Linked DNA regions of Homo sapiens: region 2 is linked to region 1. The links come from fine-mapping of genetic effects on gene expression. A gene starts in region 1. The other region holds a variant in brackets. All regions are shown on one strand. Distances are from middle to middle.

Evidence for each region. PIP is the estimated chance that this variant, and not a neighbour inherited with it, causes the effect.
Region 2: its variant is the best candidate, but not a certain one, in a credible set for the expression of P4HTM in whole blood (TOPMed, PIP 0.59).

The regions. Positions count from the first base shown.
Region 1 is chr3:48,988,021-48,993,390 of GRCh38, forward strand. P4HTM (prolyl 4-hydroxylase, transmembrane) reads left to right here and starts at 2,221. Exons shown (of 9, transcript NM_177939.3): 1 at 2,221-2,590; 2 at 2,813-2,894. The coding sequence starts at 2,237. It overlaps LOC124909376 (a long non-coding RNA gene), which reads right to left and starts at 1,852. Exons shown (of 2, transcript XR_007095903.1): 1 at 1,528-1,852. RefSeq lists enhancers at 941-1,504, 1,505-2,067, 1,815-1,974, 2,632-3,193 and a silencer at 2,085-2,464.
Region 2 is chr3:49,434,231-49,439,600 of GRCh38, forward strand. No RefSeq gene overlaps it. Among named protein-coding and RNA genes, the nearest start is that of NICN1, 7.6 kb to the left of the region's middle. The variant AAAAC/A (reference allele first, on the strand shown) is at 2,522.

The DNA of each region.
Region 1 (5,370 bases):
GCCCTGCAACCTGCTTGCTTTCTGTTGTCTGGCAATGAGCTATCAGTACCTGTGCTTAGTGGTAGGCCTAGTTCAGGTAATAGGTGTAAGAATGGAGTTCAGGAAAATAGGTTAAGCAAAGTACAGATTTTATGGTGATCAAATTCTAGTTTTTAAAAGGCTAGAGGGGCCGGTCGCGGTGGCTCATGCCTGTAATCCCAGCACTTTGGGAGGCCAAGGCGGGCGGATCACGAGGTCAGGAGTTTGAGACCAGCTTGGCCAACATGGTGAAACCCCATCTTTATTAAAAATATAAAAATTAGCTGGGCGTGGTGGCACGTGCCTGTAATCCCAGCTACTTGGGAGGCTGAGGCAGGAGAATTGCTTGAACCCGGGAGGCAGAGGTTGCAGTGAGCCGAGATGAAGCCACTGCACTCCAGCCTGGGTGACAGAGCAAGACTCTGTCTCGGGGAAAAAAAAAAAAGGCTAGAGGGAAATAGTCTCAACTTCATTCCAGAAAAGGTATGAGAAAGCCATGAGATCCTTGGTAAAATTATGGTTCTGTTGGTTGGTTTATTATATTTAAGAATTTAGGAGATTTGGTCTGGGTGTGGTGCCTTATGTCTGTAATTCCAGCACTTTGGGAGGCCAAGGTGGGTGGAACACCTGAGGTCACGAGTTTGAGACCAGCCTGGCCAACATGGTGAAACCCTGTCTCTACTAAAAATATAAAAATTAGCCGGGCATTGTGGCGGGCACCTGTAGTCCCAGCTACTTGGGAGGCTGAGACAGGAGAATTGCTTGAACCCGGGAGGCGGAGCTTTCGGTGAGCTGAGATCACACCACTGTACTCCAGCCTGGCGACAGAGCGAGACTCTGTATCAAAAAAAAAAAAAAAATTATAATTAAAAAATTAAAACTAAATAATAATAAATAAAAATACAAAAAAAAAAATTGGCCCGCCATGGTGGCGCATGCCAGCTACTTGGTAGGCTGAGGCAGGAGAATTGCTTGAACCCGGAAGGCAGAGGTTGCAGTGAGCCAAGATCGCGCCACTGCACTCCAGCCTGGGCGACAGAGTGAGACTCCGTCACACACACACAAAAAATCTTAGAAGAAAGAGGTGGGCCTGCCCTTGGAGCCCCTGGCCTGCCTTGACTTGAGGGGACTAGAAAATGCAGACTATGCTTTGCTATGGGGAAGGGAGAGGAGATGGGAGTAGAGGTAGTGGGGGTCTTAACCAGGGTAGGGAGAAACCACCAGTGTGACCTGCCTTAAAAGTGTTGCTCTTGCCTGCAAGTCCACCTCGGGGAGGGGGGTCAGCTTCTGCCCTGAGGGCGTGTAGTAATCTCTTCCTGAGGATAACCAGCTCTAGAAGAGCAGGGATGCCTTGGCACTTGACCACTGGTAGGTATGTCCTCCCCCCACCCCCGTTTTTGGTGATAATCTGTTTAATTTTTCTCTGAGGTAATGGTGTCTCAGTTATGGAAGAGTCCCTTCCCGCCTCTTCACACGTGCCAGCTTTGATGCAAGGAGTGTTCCATATACCTGAGCACTGGTTCATTCCTGCGGGCTGCCATGGGGGGCTCACTTTCCTGATGCCAGGGCTCCTCCAGGATGCCCCCTCTGACGGCCTATGAAACCTTGCACATCAGGCAGCTTCTTCCTAAGGCCTGCCTGACTCCGGCGAGACTTCCCGGGAGATCCGGACCGACCGCGGAACCGAGCTCCAAGAATGCCTGCGAGGAGGCTGTGGGTCCTACCCTATCGCCGCTTACGCAGTCCCAGCCTCCGCGGCGCCCCCAAATGCCGCACTGTTGAGTCATCTCAGCGCTGCCTCCTCCGCGCTGCGCTCCCCACCCCCGCTCCTGGAGCAAGAAGATGCAGACGATACTTTTCCCGGAGGCAAGAGGGCGTCTTCACGCAGGCACCGAGAAGCTCCCACTAGTGTATGCCTTAATGGTGCCGCTCTTGTCCGCGTCTACGCTTGGGACCTTGGCTTCTGACTTGGAGAGTGTACAGCTCTGCCCGACGGCAACCCAGCTTGGGAAGAGAAGCCCCAGCGTGGGCTGGGGCTCAAGGCGCAGGAAGGCCGAGCCCGGCGCGGACGCAGGCGGCTCCGGGCGGGCTCAGCACCCCCAGGCACCGTCTCCTAGTGACCGCGGCGCTCGCGGGCCTGGCGGCCGTTGTCCGGGCGACTGCGCAGCGCGGGCACCCCCGCGGCCCCTCCCCTGGGCGCGCGCGCGACCTGGGTGCCATGGCGGCAGCGGCGGTGACAGGCCAGCGGCCTGAGACCGCGGCGGCCGAGGAGGCCTCGAGGCCGCAGTGGGCGCCGCCAGACCACTGCCAGGCTCAGGCGGCGGCCGGGCTGGGCGACGGCGAGGACGCACCGGTGCGTCCGCTGTGCAAGCCCCGCGGCATCTGCTCGCGCGCCTACTTCCTGGTGCTGATGGTGTTCGTGCACCTGTACCTGGGTAACGTGCTGGCGCTGCTGCTCTTCGTGCACTACAGCAACGGCGACGAAAGCAGCGATCCCGGGCCCCAACACCGTGCCCAGGGCCCCGGGCCCGAGCCCACCTTAGGTCCCCTCACCCGGCTGGAGGGCATCAAGGTGAGGACCTCCCTGCCCCGCCGCGCTCCAGGCCCTGCACGGCTGAGCCCGAGAGGACCGGCGCTCAGCCCGGGTCCCCACGCTGCCCCCGGCGCTGCTCTGCGTCGGTCCCGCGCGCTCCCACTCACTCGCCTGCTGTCGCTCTCCGGGCCGGGGCGACTTGGCCCTTCTTGGGCAGCGCGGTCTGGCGCCCCAGCTGCCCGCTGTGCGCCTTTTCCTTAGGTGGGGCACGAGCGTAAGGTCCAGCTGGTCACCGACAGGGATCACTTCATCCGAACCCTCAGCCTCAAGCCGCTGCTCTTCGGTAAGTCCGCCAGATACTCCTGGGAAGGGCCAGGGGCTGCGGTTTGGTGGCCACCTTGAGGCTCGTTGTGACCACGTGACCTCTATTTTGAAAATGGCTGCTTCAGAGCAGCCCTTCCAGAGGATTACCAAAGTGAAGGACCTTCCCCGTCCTCGAAATAGGGTAACACTCCCTCTTATCCCAACTCCCTGCAGTCCATTCTTCCATCACAGGGCTGGCAGGGTGAGCCTGAGGCTGGTGTCTAAACGTTTCATTGCACCTGTCTTCCGTGCCACCATTAATTCTGTCACCTTCTAGAACTGGGAGGAAGGTGGGAGACTGATAACCAGCTTTCTGCCGACCTCAGGACCTCTGGGGAAAATCCCACTGCCGAAGTGGGCCTTGTGGTCTGATGAGAAGCAGGCCGTCCAAATGTAGATAAACTGGTACCCCCCCAGCCTCCTCCACTGGAGTACCAGTCAGAGGCTCAGCTTTTGCTGCCAGCACTCTGAGATTCTTCTTAAGGTGAAGTCTTTGTTCAGCCATCATGGGCAAAGCTTTCTAGGGTGACTCCAGTTGGAGCCACAACATAGCTCATCGTTTCTGAGCTCTAGTTATGTGCTTGCCTTCATATGATTATTTCATTTAATTCCTGCAACCCCTCTGTGAAGTGGGTGTAGATCCTACTCAGGCCAGTGAGGGGGAAAGTTAGGGACAGAGAGCTGCTGTGGCTTGGCCAGGCTGACACGGTTACTTCAGTGGTGAAGCTAGGATTAGAACCCACATAGCCTGCCTCTAAGGCCTATGCAGTAAAGCCACAGTGCGAGCTGTGAAGACCCCAGAGTCCTTCAAAGACCACCAGTGTCAACTGGGTGGGGACCCCTAGTCCCATGGACATTGTCCAGGGTGTTTGTGTAGCCCAGCCCTGGGTACCTGGCCTCCGTGACAAACATATTTGCAAACCCAGGGCCATTCCTGCCTGCCGGGGGATGGAATGGGTTAGGAGCTGGGGCCAAAGTAGAACATCTGAGCACAAGTCATTACCTCCAAGGCAGAGGGTCCTGGTTGGGGATTATGCCTAGACCTGTCAGAATGATGTCATATGCATGCTGTTTGTAGGGAAATAGATTATGCTGTCAGTCCTGTTGTGGGAGAGGCACCCAAAGCTGGTTGTTGTTATTATTACTATTACTATTGAGTAACGTTGAAGTCTGTGCCAGGCACTATTTTAGGTGCCAGGAACACAGCATTGAACTAAATATAAACAATGAAACAAAACCCTGAAGCTGACATTCAAATGAAGAGGAAACAGACAATAAACAAACAAATAAATATATACATTGGTGTGTCAGATGGTGATATGTGATTGCAAACAAGTAAGGCAGATTTTTTTTCTTTTTTCTTTTTTGCCAACATAAAATAGCAGACAGGGCCGGGCGTGGTGGCTCATGTCTATAATCCCAGCACTTTGGGAGGCTGAGGCAGGCAGATCACTTCAGGTCAGGAATTTGAGGCCAGCCTGACCAACATGGTGAAATCTCATCTCTACTAAAAATACAAAAATTAGCCGGGTGTGGTGGTGTACACCTGTAATCCCAGCTGTTCAAGAGGCTGAGGCATGAGAATTACTTGAACCCAGGAGGCAGAGGTTGCAGTGAGCCAAGATCGCACCACTGCATTCCAGCCTGGGCAACAGAGAGAGACCCCTATCTCAAAGAAAAAAAAAAATAGCAGACAGTAAGGCAGAAGTTCAGCTGGGATTAGAACTCTTTTTTTTTTTTTTTTTTTTTAGACTAAGTTTCTCTCTTGTTGTCCAGGCTGGAATGCAATGGTATGATCTCAGCTCACTGCAACCTCCGCCTTCCGGGTTCAAGTGATTCTCCTGCCTCAGCCTCCCAAGTAGCTGGGATTACAGGCATGCGCCACCACATCCGGCTAATTTTTTGCATTTTTAGTAGAGACGGGCTTTCACCGTGTTAGCCAGGATGGTCTCAATCTCATGACCTCAGGTGATCTGCCCTCCTCAGCCTCCCAAAGTGCTGGGATTACAGGTGTGAACCACCATGCCTGGCTGGAACCCTTAATAAGGTAGCCAAGGTGGACCTGCCTGAAAAAAATATTTGAGCAAGGCTGGGCGCGGTGGCTCACGCCTGTAATCCCAGAACTTTGGGAGGTCGAGGCGGGTGGATCACCTGAGGTCAGGTTGTTCGGGACCAGCCTGACCAACATGGGGGAACCCCGTCTACTAAAAATACAACATTAGCAGGGCGTTGTGGCACATGCCTGTAATCCCAGCTACTTGGGAGGCTGAGGCAGGAGAATCGCTTGAACCCAGGAGGCAGGGGTTGTGGTGAGCCAAGATTGTGCCATTGCATCCAGCCTGGGTAACAAGAATGAAACTCCATCTCAAAAAAAAAAAAAAAAAATCTGAGCAACGACTTGTGGGAAGTATGGGATAAAGCCAGATGACTGTCAGGAAAGAGGGGTCCAGGAAGGA
Region 2 (5,370 bases), 450 kb after region 1:
AGCACTTTTGGAGGCTGACGAGGGTGGATCACAAGATCAGGAGTTCAAGATCAGCCTGGCCAACATAGTGAAACCCTGTCACTACTGAAAATACAAAAATTAGCCGGGTATGGTGGTGCACACTTGTAGTCCCAGCTACTTGAGAAGCTGAGGCAGGAGAATCACTTGAACCCGGGAGGCAGAGGTGGCAGTGAGCAACAATCACGCCTCTGCACTCCAGCCTGGCAACAGAGCAAGACTTCATCTCAAAAATGCGGCCGGGCACCGTGGCTCAAACCTGTAATCCTAGCACTTTGGGAGGAAAGGCGAGTGGATCACGAGGTCAGGAGATTGAGACCATCCTGGCTAACGCTGTGAAACTCCGCCTCTACTAAAAATACAAAAAATTAGCCGGGCGTGGTGGCACGCACCTGTAGTCCCAGCTACTTGGGAGGCTGAAGCAGGAGAATTGCTTGAACCTGGGAGGCAGAGGTTGCAGTGAGCCGAGATCACGCCACTGCACTCCAGCCTGTGTGACAGAGTGAGACTCCGTCTCAAAAGAAAAAAAAAAGAACCAGATAGGCAAGCACAGTGGCTCATGCCTATAATCCCAGCACTTTAGGAGGCTGAGGCTGGAGGATCTCTTGAGCCTGAGTCACGGCTGTATCACACCACCACAATCCAACCTAGGTGACAGAGTGAGAATCTGTCTCAAAAAAAAAAAAAGGAAGAAAAAAGGCTGAGCACAGTGGTTTATGCCTGCAATCCCAGCACTTTGGGAGGCTGAGGCAAGATGATTGTGTGAGCCCAGGAGTTTGAGGTCAGCCATGGTGAAACTCCGTCTCTACAAAAAATACAAAAATTAGCCGAGCATGGTGGCTCATGCCGGTAGTTCCAGCTACTCAGGAGGCTGACATTGGAGAATCACCGAGGCCAGGAGTTCGAGGCTGCAGTGAGCCAAGATCACAAAAAATAAGAATATAAAGCCGGGCGCAGTGGCTCACACCTGTAATCCCAGCACTTTGGGAGGAAGAGGCGGGCGGATCACAAGGTCAGGAGATCGAGACCATCCTGGCTAACATGGAGAAACCCCGTCTCTACTAAAAATACAAAATTAGCCGGGGTGGTGGTGCATGCCTGTAATCCCAGCTACTTGGAGCTGAGGCAAGAGAATTGCTTGAACCCGGGAGACAGAGGTTGCGGTGAGCCAAGATCGCGCCATTGCACTCCAGCCTGGGCAACAAGAGCGAAACTCCGTCTCAAAAAAAAAAAAACAAAAACAAAAATTAGGCCAGGTGAGGTGGCTCACACCTGTAATCCCAGCACTTTGGGAGGCCAAGGCAGGCGGATTATTTGAGGTCAGGAGTTCGAGACCAGCCTGGCCTACATGGCTAAACCCCATCTCTACTAAAAATACAAAAAAAGGCCGGGCGCGGTGGCTTACACCTGTAATCCCAGCATGCTGGGAGGCCAAGGCGGGCGGATCACCTGACGTCGGGAGTTTGAGACCAGCCTGACCAACATGGAGAAACCCCGTCTCTACTAAAAATACAAAAAAATTAGCCAGGCATGGTGGCCCATGCTTGTAATCCCAGCTACTCAGGAGGCTGAGGCAGGAGAATCGCTTGAACCCAGGAGGTGGAGGTTGCAGTGAGCCAAGATCGAGCCATTGCACTTCAGCCTGGGCAACAAAAGGGAAACTCTGTCTCAAAAAAAAAAAAAAAAGTCCAGTATGGTGGCATGAGCCTGTAATCCTAGGTACTTGGGAGGCTGAGGCAGGAGAAATCGCTTCAACCCGGAAGGCAGAGGTTGCAGTAAGCCGAGATTACGCCATTGCACTCCAGCCTGGGTGACAAGAGTGAAACTCCATCTTGAAAATAAAAAAAAAAATACAAAAATTAGCTGGGCGTGGTGGTGCACACCTGTAGTCCCAGCTACTTGGGAGGCTGAGGCAGGAGAATCTCTTGAACCTGGGAGGCAGAGGTTGCAGTAAGCTGAGATCGCGCCACTGCACTCCATCCTCGGTGACAGAGGGAGACTCCATCTTAAAAAAAGAAAAATAAAAAATAAGAGAAACAAAGTGGCAATTTGGAGAGGCAAAATGATTAGAGATTAGAGAGGACAGAACTCCATAGAGAGATAACAGGCGATTTCCAAGGCGGTTCCTTGAGGCTTCAGCTGAGTGATAATCAGCACAAGTATGTGAGGAAACTACCCAACCCCAGGGAGAGAATTACCCAAAAAGAATAAGATAACTAGGCCAGGCCCGGTGGCTCACACCTGTAATCCCAGCACTTTGGGAGGCCAAGGTGGGCAGATCACGAGGTCAAGAGATCAAGACCATCCTGGCCAACATGGTGAAACCCCGTCTCTACTAAAAATACAAAAAATTAGCCAGGTATGGTGGTGGGTGCCTGTAATCCCAGCTGCTTGGGAGGCTGAGGCAGGAGAATTGCTTGAACCTGGTAGGCGGAGGTTGCAGTGAGCCGAGATCGTGCCATTGCACTCCAGCCTGGGCAAAAAGAGTGAAACTCCGTCTCAA[AAAAC/A]AAACAAACAAACAAAAAAGAATAAGATAACTATCACCAAATCTTACGAGTATGTGAGGAAACTACCCAAGCCAGTGAAAGAATTACCCAAAAAGAGTAAAAATAACAATCAGCAACTCTTAGTCTGAGCCAGAAATTGTGTTTCCACCAGCCATAGCTAAAGCCCTCCTAATTCATGGGGCATTGTGTAGCATGCTTAAACGGGTATTGCTGGGCCGGGTGCGGTGGCTCATGCCTGTAATCCCAGCACTGTGGAAGGCCGATGGGGGCGGATCATGAGATCAGGAGTTCGAGACCAGCCTGGCTAATATGATGAAACCTCATCTCTACTAAAAATATAAAAAATTAGCCAGGTGTGGTGATGCGTGCCTATAGTCCCACCTACTCAGGAGGCTGAGACAGGAGAATCGCTAGAACCCGGGAGGCAGAGGTTGCAGTAAGCCAAGATTGCGCCACTGCACTCCAGCCTGGGCAACAGAGTGAGACTCCATCTCAAAAAAAAAAACAGAAAAAAAAAAAAAAGGCCAGGTGAGGTGGCTCATGCCTGTAACCCAGCACTTTGGGATGCTGAGGTGAGCAGATCACCTGAGGTCGGGAGTTCGAGACCAGCCTGACCAACACGGAGAAACCCCATCTCTACTAAAAATACAAAATTAGCTGGGCGTGGTGGCACATGCCTGTAATCCCAGCTACTCAGGAGGCTGAGGCAGGAGAATCGCTTGAACCCGGGAGGCAGAGGTTGTGGTGAGCCAAGATTGCGCCATTGCACTCCAGCCTGGGCAACAAGAGCAAAACTCCTTCTCAAAAAAAAGGGTATTGCTGGCCAGCACTCTGGGAGGCTGAGGCAGGTGGATTACTTGAGGCCAAGAGTTTGAGACCAGCGTGATCAACATGAGGAAACCCCATGTCTACTAAAAATACAAAAATTAGCCAGGTGTATTGTTGGTGCACACCTGTAAGCCCAGCTACCTGGGAAGCTGAGACATGAGAACTGCTTGAACCCAGGAGGCAGAGGTTGCAGTGACCCAAGAACGTGACAGGGCACTCCAGCCTGGGCGACAGACCAATACTCTGTCTCCAGAAAAAAAAAAAAGGGTATTGCCATACATTATGGATGAAAATTTGTGTGAAGCTAAAATCTACTCTGATCCTACCTAACAAAGATTAAAATCAAGCCTCAAAATAATCAAATGTTTAAATGTATTAAAGAACAATGCTCAAAAATATCTATAGGAATACAATGCTATCCAGCATTTGAAAAGGTAAAATTTACAATGTTTGGCATTCATTTCAAAATTACCAGTCAGCCAAAAGAGATTGCACATACCTGATCACACCTGTAAATAGCCACTGCTCTCCAGCCTGGGCAACATAGCCAGACCCTGACTCTCCAAAAACAAATTGTTTATATACATATAACTACCACTGCCCTTTTATTTTTTTTTCTTGGACGGAGTTTTGCTCTTGTTGCCCAGGCTGGAGGGCAATGGCACGATCTCGGCTCACTGCAACCTCCGCCTCCCGAGTTCAGGCGATTCTCCTGCCTCAGCCTCCCTAGTAGCTGGGATTACAGGCATGCGCCACCACGCCTGGCTAATTTTGTATTTTTAGTAGATACAGGGATTCTCCATGTTGGTCAGGATGGTCTCAAACTCCCGACCTCAGGTGATCCACCCGCCTCGGCCTCCCGAAGTGTTGAGATTACAGGCGTGAGCCACTGTGCCCGGCCTACCACTGTCCTTTTCATAGTTTTATTTTTTATTTTTATTTTTTGAGATGGAGTCTTGCTCTGTCGCCCAGGCTGGAGTGCAGTTGCACAATCTCAGCTCACTGCAACCTCCTCCTCCCAGGTTCAAGAGATTCTGCTGCCTCAGTCTCCTGAGTAGCTGGGATTACAGGTGTGTGCCACCACACCTGACTAATTTTTGCATTTTTAGTAGAGACGGGGTTTCACCATGTTGGCCAGGCTGGTCTCAAATTCCTGATGTCAAGTGATCCACTCACCTTGGCCTCCCAAAGTGCTGGAATTACAGGTGTGAGCCACCGTGCCTGGCTTTATTTATTTATTTATTTATTTATTTTCTTTGTTACAGTCAGAGTTTCACTCTTGTCCCTCAGCCTGGAGTGCAGTGGCATGATCTTGGCTCACTACACCTTCTGCCTTCCAGGTTCAAGCAATTCTCCTGCCTCAGCCTCAAAAGAAGCTGGGATTACAGGCACGTGCCACCACGCCTGGCTAGTTTTTGTATTTTTAGTAGAGACAGGGTTTCACCATGTTGGCCAGGCTGGTCTCGAACTCCTGATCTAAAGTGATCCACCCACCTCGGCCTCCCAACGTGCTGGGATTACAGGCGTGGGCCACCGTGCTCGGCCTTATTTATGTATTTATTTATTTTTGAGTTGGAGTCTCACTCTGTTGCCCAGGCTGGAGTGCAGTGGCACGATCTCGGCTCACTGCAACCTCCACCTCCCAGGTTCAAGCGATTCTCGTGCCTCAGCCTCCTGAGTAGCTGGGATTACAGGCACCTGCCACCATACCCAGGTAATTTTTGTATTTTTAGTAGAGACGGGGTTTCACCATCTTGGCCAGGCTGGTCTTGAACTCCTGACCTCATGATCCACCCTGTTTGGCTTCCCAAAGTGCTGGGATTACAGGTGTGAGCCACCACGCCAGGCCTATTTATTTATTTATATTTATATTTATATATTTTTTGAGACGGAGTTTCACTGTTGTTGCTCAGGCTGGAGTGCAATGGCGCATTCTCGGCTCACCGCAACCTCTGCCTCCTGAGTTCAAGCGATTCTCCTGCCTCAGCCTCCCAAGTAGCTGGGATTACAGGCATGT